4 linked regions of the Homo sapiens genome follow. The protein of the gene in region 1 purifies or fractionates together with the protein of each later gene. This does not show direct contact. Each region holds a gene or a part of one and is shown on either strand. Other genes may lie near its edges.

Region 1 (3,931 bases):
GGTGGTACAGGCTTGGCCCGCCCACAGTGCCCCGCTGTGGGCCACACGGGTGCCAGACGGAACCCAGTGAGAGCTGAGGATGGCCTCGGCCAGGGCCCACCAAGACTCTGTCATGACCCCAGACCTCTAATCTCCCACTGGTGGGTGGGCAAAAAGCCCTGGCAGTGTTACGGTCACTCAGGACCATCCCTGGGTACTGAGGGCAAGAAACAGGCCAGGCCACTGATTCTCCAGAACTTGATTTCTGGAGACCAGATGCACAGTGGAAGACTCATTCAATCCATTCCACCCACTCAGCTCTGTGCTGAACACCCGTGATGGCCAGACATTTCCACATTCATTAACCCATTCAATAATCTCCAAACACTGTGTGGTCGCAGAGATTAGCCCCGTTTTACAGCTGAGAATACTGAGGTGCAGAGAGGCAAAGGGCCTTGCCCTGAGACCCACAGCTAGTGTGAGGATGAACAGGACTTGGCCTGCATGTGGCTGGTTCTCTGGGGTGTGTTCCCCTGGCTGGGGCACCTAGACTCCAGTGTCACGGCGAGGTTTTCCCTTGTGCTAACGGGCATCTCTACGTCTATCGCTCAGCCATGCTGGAATCAGGTGAGTGAAGGCAGAAGACCTGTAGCACCCACTTGGTCTCTACAAGCTTCGGCTTCCTCATCTACAAGCAGGAGTAACAGTGTCACTGGCACTGCTGCACGGAACTGTACACAGAAGCACAGCACTGCAGGAGGAGAACTGGCTTCCGTTCCTCACCCTGCAACTCCTCCATCAGGCAGCCTCAGGCCACTCCTCCTCCCTGGTCCTCAGTCTCTTCTATAAAGTGGGATTGTACTTGCTCTACCATCCTCACAGGGATTCTTACAAGGATCAAATAAGACAACACAAGGAAAGTAGTTTCCAAATGTACAGGAAGGCTGTATGTACTGATGTCTACTGACAGCCACAGGGGCTGAGCAAGTGGGCATAAGACACAGAAAAGCAGTGCCTCCACCTACAATGAGGGACACCCCCCAGCCCAGTCAGACAGGGGCCACATAATTGCAAAGGCCTGGAAAGAAGGTGTTGAAGTCCAGAGAAGGGAGTGAGCCCTTGGGCCAGAGCAGGCTGGGAAGGCCTCCTGGGAAGGTGGGTCTTTTCAGAAGGGTGAGCCTGGCATGAATAGGGGAGAGAATTCTGAAGAAGGGAGCAGACAGCAGAGGTCTGGAGGTGGGAATGAGAATGAACAGGAAGAACCAGGCAGGCTCATGAGCAGCGGCTTCTTGCCCTGGGGCAGGGCCGGGCAGGGGTGGGGATAGAGAGGCGATACCTCTGATCAGGACAACTCCTGGCACTACCAGAGAGCCTGTGTGAGTATGGAGGTGTCCAGCACAGCACCCCCAGGGGTGGATGCCTGCCTGGAGCCAGCTGTGGAAGGAGCTCCGGACACCCTGCCTGCTTCCTGGCTCAACCTCCTGTGATGGGGCACAAACCCCAGAGAGAGAATTCAGAGTCTGTTTGGATGGCAGAGAAATGAATAAAAGGTGTCCTTCTTGAACAAACCCAGAGGGACTGGCCCAAGCCGGGCCTTCATAGACAGACCAGCTGTCTTGGGGTAGAGGTGATTTCAGGAGGTGTCACTCATGGCCAGTCTGCTCCTGGCCACCTCAGGTCAGATGTTCCGGAGCTCCCTCCAAGTGGCAGCCCTTCCTTGACTCCCCCAGGGCAGGTGCCAGCTCCACTGGCATGATGCAGCCTCCATTGAAGGCTGAGGGTACCTGGGAAAAGCTCAAAGGGACTGAATTATCCTCAAATAGGGGCCCTTTGGAAAATAAAGCAGCCGCTAGAGGCTTATGTCAGATTTCAGGATTAGCCTGCTTGGCAAAGCAGTGACTCTTTGGAACTAATCAGCAGCTGGATTTGCTCCCAGGTGGGTGGTGTACACGGGTGGTCAGCCACGGTGGGAGGCAGCATAGCTGCTCTTGGGACACAGGAGGCTGCAAGGCACCCCTTTTCCAAGCACCCTATTTCTGAGTCATGACTAGGACTAGCTCTCACTAGCGCAAGGTCCAGCTCTTTTCTCCTCCAGGCCCAGCTGGTGTGAGGTCAACCAGTGGGGGGTAAGGGAGCTCTAAGACCCTGGCCCCATTCCTTCTCCCTGGGTTCCTGCGGAAGACAAGACTCACCTAAACATCTAGACTAGAGGCCCTGCCCTGGTGTGGCTGCACAGCCAGAAGGAACAAAGCCTTCTTAGCCTCGACCCGCTCAGTGTACACCCCACGCGGCCTCAGGGTGGCTGAGGCTAGTGACAGAATGAACGAAGGGGTGAAAGCATGAATGAATGAATGGCTATCAGAACATTCTTTATTATGAGGAAGTCCAACTACTCCCTGGATAGTCACAGGGCAGACACAAAGAATGAATGTGGTTCCTGCTCTCAAGAAGCTAATCCCAGTGTTACGGCTCTTTTTGAATTTGTCTGAATTTAAAAAAAAGAAAAGCAGTTAATCCTTTCATTAGCAGATGTCTGCTAAAGTGAAGGTGGGGGTGCGGGACCCACACTTTTTGAGCAGGGACTCCCCAAGCGCTCTGCGGGATGCTAAGGGGCACCACAGAGTGGGGGGCCCAGGGATGAATGAGAACGTGAAGTGCCATGTGGTGCTGGCCCGCGCACTACGAGCCCTGCTTTTTGTGGCATTTCCCCAATTCATCAGCCACAGAGCCCCTTTGAAGATAGCCTTTGACCACCCCACTGTACCACGTTCTGCAGAACACAGGTTGGGAAGTAACGGATTTAGAATAAACTAGGCCAGAAAGGTCCCACGAGAGCCACCCCACTGGGACACATGGACTCCTAGACATGCTCGGCCTGGCCCTGCTGCTCCGCAGGCAGACTCTAGTATTTCATTTCCCTGTGCCTCGGTTTCCCTCTAATAAAATAACAATCCTGGTTTCTTCCAGCCCGCTGGGATGTCAGGAGCGAGGACACAGGATGAGAGTGAACAGATGCCAGGGGCCTTGGGGACATGTAAATACCAGAAGCCGTCACGGTGACTCAGGCTTGGCGGGCACTTGCAGGGCTGTCTAATAGCCCGAGGCTGCTAATGAGGGGTACAGATGACAGCCTCCAGGGCCTGCATGCCTTGGTGTCACATAAGCCGTTCCTGGAAAGAGGCGGCCTGGCTTCCTCTGAATCCCAGGCACAGTCCTGTGTCCTGGAGCATGGAGTGGGAGCTGGAGACACGCACAACACTGAGTCTGCTGAGAATGTGGCCAGTGGAGGTAAAGGCCTGGGGAGAACTGGGGGGCTGGGTGGGGAGGCAGATCACCCAGCCAAGTGCTCAGACAGTCCCTGATGAAGTGGAGAGGCCAGGCCAGGGGCAGAGCAGGGGTCTTAGCCAGGTGGCGTCCCACACTTGATTTCTTATAATATGGAGAAAATAGCATCCACCTTAGGGGGCTGTCGTGAAGATTACATAAGAGAGCGTGTAAGGAGTCTGGCTTACTGCGTACACAGCAAGGACTCAGGAAATAGGAGCTGTCACCGGCACAGGTTCTGCCAATTGACCTCCATGTGACAGCTGAGGCCTCATTCTCCCTTCCTTCTGTGAAAGCTGCCGACCGGGCCCTCCGGCAGAGAGGCCATCACCAAGACATCTGCACTTTGCCCCCTCGCTGGGTGGGCTGCATGCTGCCATGAGTCCGTTTAATTTGTTCCCAAACTTGCTTATGCCAGTTATACCTGCTCTTGCAATTATATAATTTAATTATTCTTTACATAAACTGTTAAAATATGATTGTGAAAAGAAAGACTGGTTGTGCACACAAAGTTCTCTCTTTCTGGAACTAGCTGAGCAGCCCTGGGCTGCGGATCCTCCCCCTCAGCCCCCTTCACCGCCTCTCACCCAATGTGCACCCACAGGCTTCTACTTTTCACAGGCCTGGG
Region 2 (3,931 bases), on another chromosome or scaffold:
TCCTGGTTAACACGGCGAAACCCCGTCTCTACTAAAAATACAAAAAATTAGCTGGGCATGGTGGTGGGTGCCTGTAGTCCCAGCTACTCGGGAGGCTGAGGCAGGAGAATGGCGTGAACCCGGAAGGTGGAGCTTGCAGTGAGCTGAGATCGCGCCACTGCACTCCAGCCTGGGCGACAGAGCACGACTCCGTCTCAAAAAAAAAAAAAAAAAAAGTATAAAAGTATAACTGTTATTGGGGAAATGACCTGAAATGTGACTTTTAAAAATTCCTAAAGGTCCAATAATAAGGTCTCAGTTGACCCTAGAGATTTCCAATGGCAGGCCTAACTTAGTCCTGCTGGTTCATTAATGTGGCAAGGAAGAGTTTCCAGTTTCTTATGTGTACTGGGATAGACAGGATCTTATGTTTTAAATCTTAACACAAATATATCAAAATTATTTGAAAAGAGTCATAGAAAAATGTTCTAGGTGGCAGTCTCTACAAAAATACTGTACTAAAGCAAACGTTGGGAACCTTTTACCAATCTGCTTTCATAACGCTTAGACCTCATTAAACACACTTTGAAACATTTAGAAGCTTCCAAGTTGAATAACCAACTTATGTGCAATCCACAACTTTCCCGAGTGGGAGTCAACAAATCAGACACAGACATCTTTCATCAAAGAAGCAGCTTTTACAGAAAAGCAGATAACATTAAACAGAACAGATAAGGACAAAATGTTTTCAAAAGCACAACTGAAACAAATAGTATTCCACTTGGAGTCTCATGAAAATCCTGTAAAATACTATTCAACACCAAATAAAAAGCAGCAGCTGTATAGAAATAAGGAGCAAGTGGCAAATACACACTAGACCAGTTTTTCTGAAACGTCAGAGCAGAAAAAGAGAAGCCATAAGCAAATGAATGGCAAACACGGACCCAATTCAGAGAAGATACAAAGAGGAACAGCGGCCACCTCCAGCCCACCCAGGTGCATGAAGAAAGCAGGTGGGGGGTGGAAAGATCAATGAAAGGTGGAGATACAGAGTCTGAAACCAAATGCCTGCAAGTTCGGCTTATCTTGGTTTTTTCACTCTCCAGCCAAGTCACTTGCAGAACTACTGATTGACTCAAAGTACAAATAACTCCAAAATGTCACACACGTCAGTTATAAGCTACTCATTTCCCTCAAGCAAATCCAAGAGTACACAAACTATTATTTGTATTTCTTCTGGAATTTGTACTCATTAAGGTATCAGTAGTAAAGGTAATCAGATAGTAATGAAGAAAAAAACAGCTTCGGGTTGTATATGCACACAGATTCTATACAACCTCAGTAACATTGAAAAACCACTTGGTAAATAAGGCCTGATTTGCAATTCTTGACCCTCTGAAGGGGAACTATGGTATAAAAAGGACAATCATTTTATCAGTATCATGGTCTTTAATTCCCACTCACCAAAGCAGTGTTTATACCAAAACCTGGACTCTGCAGAAAGAGCTCATTTAAACAGACCATAGAACATCGACACACCATCGATGGCACATGGTGGGCACTCCACACATGGTAAGCTCACAGGGGCCCGCCCAACCCAGAAGGTAGACTGAATACTCCATACCATGACCCATCTCTGTCTGGGCATAAGTGCCAATGATCTCCAAGTTCCAGGCGGGCATGAAGAAGCGCTCCTGCTGCTCCGCAGTTGCCTGGTGAAGCAAGGTGGGCAGGAACATGCCCAAGTGAAGATCCAGAGGCTCAGGCCGCCCTCGGTGCACAAAACTTCGAGGAAATATCAAGGATGGGCATTTGAGAGAAGAGTCATCAGGTGTGAGAGAATCAGCAATTTAAATAGAGCAAGGGAAGGAGACAAAAAAACCTTAAGTATGAATTAGTTGCGTGCACTTAATCATAGATGGGAGCACTGTCCCTTTCTGTATTACTTTATAGCTCTTGTTAATTTCCATTTTTCCTGAGTCGGCAAGGAGTACGAGGACAGGGATTGGTTACTGATTCCAAAGCCAATGCAGCACAAAACCACACGTGCAAGGCAGAGGATCCTCGCCCAGGAATTAAATCAAAGGAAATAAAGAAAATTTGAGAGGCCAGTGCAGTGGATCATGCCTACAATCTCAGCACTTTGGGAGGCCAAGGCGGTCAGATCACCTTAAGTCAGGAGTTCGAGACCAGCCTGGCCAACATGGCAAAGCCCTGACTCTACTAAAAATACAAAAATCAGCTGAACGTGGTGGCGCCAGCCAGTAGTCCCAGCTATTTGGGAGCCTGAGGCAGGAAAATCGCTTGAACCTAGGAGGCGGAGGTTGCAGTGAGCCGAGATCATGCCCACTGCATTCCAGCCTGGGTGACAGAGTGAGACTCTGTCTCAAAAAAAATAAATAAATAAATAAGAGAGAATTGGCCAGGTGCAGTGGCTCCCACCTATAATCTCAGCACTCTGAGAGGCCGAGGTGGGTGGATCACCTGAGGTCAGGAGTTCAAGACCAGCCTGGCCAACATGGCGAAACCCTGTCTCTACTAAAAATACAAAAATTAAGCAGGCATGGTGGTGCACACCTGTAATCCCAGCTACTCAGGAGGCTGAGGCAGGAGAATTGCTCCAACCCAGGAGGCAGAGGTTGCAGTGAGCTAAGATAACACCACTGCATTCTAGCCTGGGCGACACAGTGAGACTCCATCTCAAAAAAAAAAAAAAAAAGAGAGAGAGAATTTGAAAAGTTGTATAGGGCCAGGCATGGTGGCTCATGCCTGTAATCCTAGCACTTTGGGAGGCTGACGCAGGCGGATCACTTGAGGTCAGGAGTTTGAGACCAGCCTGGCCAACATAGTGAAATCCCGTTTCTACTAAAAATACAAAAAAAAAAAAAAAAAAAAAAGGCCGGGCACCGTGGCTCATGCCTGTAATCCCAGCACTTTGAGAGGCCAAGGTGGGCGGATCACCTGAGGTCAGGAGTTCAAGACCAGCCTGACCAACATGGTGAGACCCCATCTCTACTAAATATACAAAATCAGCCAGGTGTGGTGGCACATGCCTGTAATCCAAGCTACTTGGGAGACTGAGGCAGGAGAACCTGGGAGGCGGTGGTTGCAGTGAGCCGAGATCACACCACTGCACTCCAGCCTGGGCAACAGAGCGAGACTCTGTCTCAAAAAAAAAAAAAAAAAAAAAAAGTTGTATAGAATGGAGAATTTGCTGGGTGTGGTGGCATGTGCCTGTAATCCCAGCTACTTGGGATGCTGAGGCAGAATCGCTTGAAGCCAGGAGTCGGAGAACAGAGAATTTGAGTGGTACTGGTACAAGGATTTCCTCTGATGAGAAAGCGAGACAGAACATAGTAGTTCTCTCAGAGTGACAGTATGACCCCCAGATTATAGTTTTTCCTCGATGCAATTTCAATAATGCTTCTAGGCTGGGATTTTTTTTCTGTTTTGTCCACAAAACATCCAGCGTAGAACCATATTCCTCACATAGCTCTGATCATTTCATTCAGATTCATCATGTCAAATATTCGGCCACGCTCTACTGAAACACTTTAATACAAAAACTGACAGTGCTCTTCATCCCAATAATTTATTTCAGAAATTAAAAAAGACATGCAATTTCTAGTGAAGACCATAATAACGACAAGTTACAGATTCATGCATAAGCTCTCCGTGACAATTATACAGAAATTATCATTAATGATAATAAACAGCTTTATTAGTTTTAAATCAACTTTCTGGGGTCATTCTTTTCCACTTAAAACGTGCAGGGGACAGGATTCTGTGTGAATTTTTGCTAGGGATAGGAAGTCGTTCTATAGGCCTTTGCATTTTTCCACATTACTGGTATTCTGTGTAATTGCCAGCTCCAAATCCGTCAACTCCATATTGCTCTTATCATTCTATGTGTCTTTGAAATGAGCATAAATGACAGTTCAGTTTTTAAATT
Region 3 (3,931 bases), on another chromosome or scaffold:
GGCCAGGCTGGTCTTGAATTCCTAGCCTCAAGTGATCTACCCACCTTGGCCTCCCAGAGTGCTGGAATTACAGGCGTGAACCACTGCATCCAGCCAATACTTCTTCATTCTTACTCATTTTTGCTTTCTCACGTTTAAGAGACAAACTTAAAGCATAGATTCTACAGGCATCCCTCCTAAGATAATAAAATCAGTCTTGGTTCTTATCTATTCCTAACGGCCTAAGTTCAAGACCGTGTGCTTTACCTTTTATTTTGTAAACAATGAGCGTGTATGATTTTTCACAATGAAATATGTATGTTCTCTCTCATGCTTCTTCCCTCTCTACATTTTAAAACACCTTACTCCATATATAAATTAATGAAATATTACAACGTACCCACAGCATTCCCTTCCAATTCACAGGCAAATTAAATTTCAGTCTGTGATGGTTCTTGATGTGTTTAAAAGTAGAACGTACAGTAAAAGTATAGAATGGCTGGGCATACTTTTTTTTTTTTTTTTGAGACGGAGTCTCACTCTTTCGCGCAAGCTGGACTGCAGTGGCGCTATCCCGGCTCACTGCAAGCTCCGCCTCTTGGGTTCATGCCATTCTCCTGCCTCAGCCTCCCGAGTAGCTGGGACTACAGGCGCCCACCACCACGCCCGGCTAATTTTTTGTATTTTTAGTAGAGATGGGGTTTCACCGTGTTAGCCAGGATGGTCTCGATCTCCTGACCTCGTGATCCGCCCGCCTCGGCCTCCCAAAGTGCTGGGATTACAGGCGTGAGCCACCGCGCCCGGCAAGGGCATACTTTTATAATGGCTTAAATTTTTATACTGAATTTTTTTTTTTTTTTTTGAGACAGTGTCTCGCCCTGTTGCCCAGGCTGGAGTGCAGTGGCGTGATCTCGGCTCACTGCAAGCTCCGCCTCCCAGGTTCACACCATTCTCCTGCTTCGGCCTCCCAAGTAGCTGGGACTACAGGCGCCCGTCACCACGCCCGGCTACTTTTTTGAATTTTTAGTAGAGACAGAGTTTCACTGCGTTAGCCAGGATGGTCTCAATCTCCTGACCTCGTGATCCGCCCACCTCGGCCTCCCAAAGTGCTGGGATTACAGGCGTGAGCCAACATGCCCAGCCTTTTTTTTTTTTCAGACAGTCATGCTCTGTCACCCAGGCTGGAGTGTGGTGACGCAATCTCAACTCACCGCAAACCTCTGCTTCCTGGGTCTGAGCGATTCTTGTGCCTCAGCCTCCCGAGTAGCTGGGATTACAGGTGTCTGCCACCATGCCAGGCTAATTTTTGTATTTTTAGTGGAGATGGGGTTTTGCCATGTTGGGCCAGGCTGGTCTCAAACTCCTGACCTCAGGTGATCTGCCCCCTCGGCCTCCCAAAGTGCTGGGATTACAGACATGAGCCACCACACCCGGCCTGATTTTTTTAATTTTAAATTTTTTGTTTCTCCCCCTCCCCAGGTAACAAAGCTGAGAGAAAATGCAACTAGCTATAATAAATATTAGGCTGGGCACGGTGGCTCACCCCTGGAATCCCAGTACTTTGGGAGTCCAAGGCGGTTAGATCATGAGGTCAGGAGATCGAGACCATCCTGGCTAACATGGTGAAACCCCATCTTTACTAAAAATACAAAAAATTAGCCGGGCGTGGTGGCGGGCGCCTGTAGTCCCAGCCACTCGGGAGGCTGAGGCAGGAGAATGGTGTGAACCCGGGAGGTGGAGCTTGCAGTGAGCCGAGATGGCGCCACTGCACCCCAGCCTGGGTGACAGATCAAGACTCCGTCTCAAGAACAACAAAAAAAGAAATATTATAAATTTTAAAATATTACATTAAGAAATCCATTTTACTGTGGATACATTTTATTGATATATAACATTCCGTTACATCATTTTAAGAATCTAGCCCCAAATAAGGGCTTTCATCGTGAGAATATATAGCATTTGACAACTCTGATCTTCAGTGTAACTAACCTAACCCGAGGCTTTATGATGACAAGCATGAAGGAGCGACCTAACGTGTGGGCACCTGTCGCTGTAGCTGGGTTTCAGCTGCAGCACATTATGTGCTAGATGACCAGGTCTTGTTAGAGCCCAGGCGCCTAGGGCACAGGGAGCATCAGGACCCCCAGGCTGCTGCTTAGACTTCAAGCCTGTCCTGATGATCCTTATTCCAAATATCATTTTATTTCACCAGTAATCCCCAATATATCTACATTTATGTACTTATTTAGCAGAGATAGGATCTTGTTATGTTGTCGAGGCTGGTCTCGAGCTCCTGGCCTCAAGTAATCTTCTGGTCTTGGCCTTCCAAAGTGCTGGGATTACAGGCATGAGCCACCAAACCTGACCAATATTTATAATTTTTAAAAGCCGCTGTAGAATAATAAAAACTCTTGGCCAGGCACGGTGGCACATGCCTGTAATCCCAGCACTTTGGGAGGCCAAGGCGGGTGGATCACGAGGTCAAGAGATTAAGACCATCCTGGCCAACATGGTGAAACATCATCTCTACTAAAAATACAAAAATTAGCCGGGAGTGGTGGCGCGCACCTGTAGTCCCAGCTACTTGGGAGGCTGAGGCAGGAGAATCTCTTGAACCCGGGAGGCGGAGGTTGCAGTGAGCCAAGATCGCATCATTGCACTCCAGCCTGGGGCACCAAGAGCGAGACTCCAGCTCAAAAAACAAACAAACAAACAAACAAACAACAAAAAAAACCTCTTATTTGGCAACTCGCTCATTTTCCCTTTCTGAACTTGCACACTGACCATCATGCTATGAGGATGCTCAAGGCTGTAAAAGCCCCTCTATAAGCAAATGGAGGGAGGCAGTTCCCCTTTGACCAAAGCAGAAGACGCAGAAGCATCATCCATCAACATTTCAGGTAGTACTATTCCAGCGTTGACATCCGAGTTCTTTTATTATATTCTTAAATTTCTACCTTTCATTCCTCAAGTAAAGAACACAAGCCCATTCCCTTTCTGCTCTGCTCTTCAGAGAGCTTCTTGGGAAACCAGATACTAATCATTTCAGAAGTGACTGTTTATCAAATGCACACCCTCTGGGGGTAAGGGGTGACTTGGAGGTTGCTGGGCCAGTGTGGGAATCTCCCAGTGTCCTGTCCGTGTTGTCAGAAGGTGGTCACTGTTTGGTCCCAGAGGGGTCAGCTCCCACTGTGTAACAAAACACCTGTCTGTGCACAGCAAAGGAGAAAAGTGACACTCGTCTACCATCGATCAGAGGCTGGGTTTCATGACACACGGGACATGGTCTTTTTACGTTCCAAGAGACTCTTTTGGAAGTTGCTTATCTACCCTGCGTCCTTGAAAAACGAACTTTAGAGATTAAAAAGGGCGCTTATAAACTCAAGTTATACATTCCCAATTTATCAAAAGATGACTCACCAAGACTTTTGAGGAAACCACAGAGTCTTCTGGATGCATCAGTTACACTGAGGTTGAATTTAGCAGCAAAATAAGGCAAAGATTGAGGACACACAGACACTACCAGCACTTTGTGCTTTGAGGTATCACATTTCTAGAAGGAGAAATAGAGAATGTTAGGTATCTGCTGATTACACAAGGAGTAAAAGTTACACACCTTAATGAGAAATTCAGAACAACGTTAATAGATGGTCTATGCAAAGACTAATAAAATAGACAAACACTGGCAAACATAATTAAGAAAAAGGAGAAAAAAAATCAGGATTATGGTGAGGTTTGGGCTTCTGGTAAATATTTTTTTAAAAGTCAGGATTTAAAAAATGAAACATGAGCTGGCTTCAGTGGTGCATGCCTACAGTTCCAGCTACACAGGAGGCTGAAACAGGAGGATCACTTGAGGCCAGGAGTTTGAGACTGCAGAGCGCTATAATCACACTTAGGAACAGCCATAGCCACTGCGCTCTAGCCTGAGTGACAGAGTAATACTCTGTCT
Region 4 (3,745 bases), on another chromosome or scaffold:
CGTGTTTGTTATTATCTAATAAATTATTATCTAACAAGATAATAATTTGATACTTCAGCCTGATTACTATTAAGTACCTTCTGACTCAGTCACCTCATGGATTATGTTGCTTAAATTAACAGGACATCTACAGTTTTTATAGTGCTGATCTGAAGTTTCAGGCCATTTTCTATCATTGGCTCATCAGACATCAGAGACTAAGAAGCTGCTGCATTCTCTAAAGGAAATATTAACAAATATTGGGAGCACCAGTATTTGTCATGACCAGTGAGTCGCTGCAAGAAATGGCATAGAAAGCTGTGGGGTCAAGAACAAAAACACTCTGGAAGGCAATCTCAGTGTGGGGATGGAAATAGAGTTCAGCCTAACTGCAAAAAAAAAAAAAAAAAAAAAAAAAAAAAAGGTTGGGGAAAAACAAAGAATTCTCTCCCCTCTTTTTTCGTATTTGGACATAGATAAGTAACAAAATGCCCTTATGTGATTGGGAACTTGTGTTAGTTTCCAGACAATGAGATCTTGTTATGATTGACGCAGAGTTAAAACAGACAAAAGTAGTTACTTGCCAAACATTTATTATTAATTTTTCACAGTCCAATTATTTCAACAAGAATATATCTAAGGTATTATCAATAGGCCTCAAATGATTGTGGGCAAATGGGTCTTGTCAAAGGGCCTCTAGAAATTTGCCCCTATGTTCACACATTTTTCCCTTTTACACCCCCAACATGCTCTATGTGATCTCTTATTGGCCCTAGAGTAAGACAGATGTTTATGGGATTCTGAGCAGCTTCCTTCTAACAAGCTAAAATTAACAAAGGTTCATAATATTCTGAAACTCATCAAAACTTGGGGAAGTAGAATGAACACTATAGACTACAACAGACACAGTTTTAAAATTTGAACTCTGAAGTTGAGAAACACCTCATTATTTCTTCATGAGATTATGTGTTTAAGTGGAGTTGAGTTTAAAAAAAATCTAATTTAAATTCTAAATCTTCAAAGCTAAACCTATTCTTAACAGATATTTCTTCCAGTAATGGGCTGATTTTACAGGAAGTTTTTATGCAGAGGTCACTCCCCCTGCACTATTCAAGGGTTATAAAAATTTAGTTACCTGGAATTTGTGCTAACTATGCCACAAAAGATGAAATGCTGTTTGGAGGCAATGATCAATTTAGGTTCAAGAAGAAATAGCAACTTGAACATTAAAAGTATCTGCACTTTCCACAAGATGGGTCAGTCATTAAACAAACCGACCCATTGTTTAGAATCTCAAATCATCCTATTACTCTTGTTACTTCTGAAAGCAATAAATGAACATGTTCCTCAAACAAAATTTCTTAAACAAATTAAATGATTTATATTTTTTTTAAATGCACACCACATCTGCATCAAAGAGCAAAAGAAAGACATCTTGCAGTAAAGAACTACTTGAGGAAGAATAAAAAGCAGAAGTACAAAGTGCGTAAAATGAGCGTAGTTTAAGATTTTGGAAGAAAAGACATTCTAATATCAGAGAGTTTTCCCACAACCAGAAACATCTGAGTTATCACTTGGTACCCAGTGTTTCTCATTTTCCCGTGCTCGAAGCTTTGGCAGGTGTCAAGATATTGGCAACATCACTTAAGGGCGGTATTGAGATCTCTGCTCTTGGATGTACTCATAGAGAGGGCTGGAGCGCACTGGGACACTGGCAAACTGATGAGTGCCGGGCTCCAGAAGCCGCCCATGGCCCTTCCCTTCTTGGGATTTTATCTCCCCGACTTGGCGGTGCCTCTGTTCCTCCTTCTGCTGGCGGCGGATGTGTTCTTCCCGTAATTTCCTTTCCCGTTCCTGGCGACGTTTCTGCTCCTCTTCTTGCCATAGTTCTTGTTCCTCACGACGACTCTTCTCCTGCGTGGCAAACTGCTCCTCCGCCCGGTACTGCCGGTCTCGCTCCTGCCGCAGCCTCTGCTCTTGTTCCTCAAGTTGGAGCTGCTCTTCTTCCCAGCGATACTTTCCGTCACGCTGTTGGGGGCGCAGCTGCTGTTCTTCCCTCTCCTGGCGTAGCTGTTCCTCCTCGCGGAATTTTCTGTCAGACTCTTGGCTGCGCAGCTGCTGTTCCTCCCTCTCCTGGCGGAGCTGTTCCTCCTCGCGGAATTTTCTGTCGCGCTCCTGGCGGCGCAGCTGCTGTTCTTCCCTTTCCGGACGGAGCTGCTCTTCCTCTAGGATTTTTCTGTAGCGTTCTTGGCGGCGCAGCTGCTCTTGCTCCGTTTCTTGGCGCAGCTGTTCCTCCTCACGGAATTTTCTCTCCAGTTCCTGGCGGCGCAGCTGCTGTTCCTCCTGGAGGAATTTTCTCTCTCGTTCCTGACGGCGGAGCTGCTGTTCCTCTTCGCGGAATTTTCTGTCACGCTCTTGGCGGCGCAGCTGCTGTTCCTCCCCTTCCTGGAGCAGCTGTTCCTCTTCACGGAATTTTCTGTCGCGGTCGTGACGCAGCTGTTGTTCGCGCTCCTGGCGGCGCAGCTGCGGTTCCTCCTCGAGGAATTTTCTGTCACGCTCTTGGCGGTGCAGCTGCTGTTCTTCCCTTTCCTGGAGCAGCTGTTCGTCTTCGCGGAATTTTCTGTCGCGCTCCTGGCGCAGCTGTTGTTGGCCCTCCTGGCGGCGCAGCTGCTGTTCGTCCTCCATGAATTTTCTCTCTTGTTCCTGGCGGCGCACTTTCTGTTCCTCTAAACGGAATTTTCTGTCACGCTCTTGGCGGCTCAGCTGCTGTTCCTCCCTCTCCTGGCGCAGCTGTTCCTCCTCGCGGAATTTTCTGTCACGGTCCTGACGCCGCTGTTGCCCGCGCTCCTGGCGGCGCAGCTGCTGTTCCTCCTGGAGGAATTTTCTCTGCCGTTGCTGGCGGTGCAGCTGCTGTTCCTCCTCGAGGAATTTTCTCTCTGGTTCCTGACTGCGCAGTTCCTGTTCGCGGAATTTTCTGTCACGCTCTTGGCGGCGCAGCTGTTGTTCCTCCTCCAGGAATTTTCTGTCACGCTCTTGGCGGTGCAGCTGCTGTTCTTCCCTTTCCTGGAGCAGCTGTTCCTCTTCGCGGAATTTTCTGTGACGCTCCTGGCGCAGCTGCTGTTCCTCCTCCAGGAATTTTCTCTCTCGTTCCTGGCGGCGCACCTGCTGTTCCTCTTCACGGAATTTTCTGTCACGCTCTTGGCGGCTCAGCTGCTGTTCCTCCTCGCGGAATTTTCTGTCGCGGTCCTGACGCAGCTGTTGCTCGCGCTCCTGGCAGCGCAGCTGCTGTTCCTCCTTAAGGAATTTTCTCTCCCGTTCCTGGCGGCGCAGCCGCTGTTCCTCCTCGAGGAATTTTCTCCCTTGTTCCTGATGGCGCAGTTCCTCTTCGCGGAATTTTCTGTCACGCTCTTGGCGGCGCAGCGGCTGTTCCTCCCTTTCCTGGAGCAGCTGTTCCTCCTCGCGGAATTTTCTGTCTGTCTCTTGACGGCGTCTCTTCTCTTCTCTTTCCTCTCTCAGCAACTGCTTTTCCTCTTGGGACTTCCTGTCGCGCCTTTTGGCTTCCTTTTGCTCTTCTCGCTCCAGCTGTTCTTCCTCTGGGAAATGCCTGTCGCGCTGCTGCCAGCGCCTCCTCTCTTGCTCACGATCTCGCTCTTGCTGTTCACCCAGCAGGTGCTGCAGATCTTGCTGGGATTGTCTGTCGCGCAGCTGGGAATCTTCCAACTGCCGGAACTGTTCATTCTCTCTGCCTTTGCAGTAAACCTTGTTA

What was found. Proteins that work in one complex are often made in the same cells at the same time.
Region 2: the proteins of HS1BP3 (region 1) and ACOX1 purify together in Homo sapiens (affinity purification with mass spectrometry; one large-scale study listed by BioGRID and IntAct). This does not show direct contact.
Region 3: the proteins of HS1BP3 (region 1) and NARF purify together in Homo sapiens (affinity purification with mass spectrometry; one large-scale study listed by BioGRID and IntAct). This does not show direct contact.
Region 4: the proteins of HS1BP3 (region 1) and TCHH purify together in Homo sapiens (affinity purification with mass spectrometry; one large-scale study listed by BioGRID and IntAct). This does not show direct contact.

Annotation. Positions count from the first base shown.
Region 1 is NC_000002.12:20,619,856-20,623,786, forward strand, and holds part of HS1BP3 (HCLS1-binding protein 3), read right to left. Parts: intron 2,465-3,931; coding exon of another isoform or gene 2,443-2,464; exon of another isoform or gene 2,332-2,442; intron 1-2,331. UniProt on the Homo sapiens protein: May be a modulator of IL-2 signaling.
Region 2 is NC_000017.11:75,958,612-75,962,542, forward strand, and holds part of ACOX1 (peroxisomal acyl-coenzyme A oxidase 1), read right to left. Parts: intron 1,765-3,931; coding exon 1,604-1,764; intron 1-1,603. UniProt on the Homo sapiens protein: Involved in the initial and rate-limiting step of peroxisomal beta-oxidation of straight-chain saturated and unsaturated very-long-chain fatty acids.
Region 3 is NC_000017.11:82,468,365-82,472,295, reverse strand, and holds part of NARF (nuclear prelamin A recognition factor), read right to left. Parts: intron 3,533-3,931; coding exon 3,400-3,532; intron 1-3,399.
Region 4 is NC_000001.11:152,105,762-152,109,506, forward strand, and holds the end of TCHH (trichohyalin), read right to left. Parts: coding exon 1,624-3,745; 3' UTR 556-1,623; downstream 1-555. UniProt on the Homo sapiens protein: Intermediate filament-associated protein that associates in regular arrays with keratin intermediate filaments (KIF) of the inner root sheath cells of the hair follicle and the granular layer of the epidermis.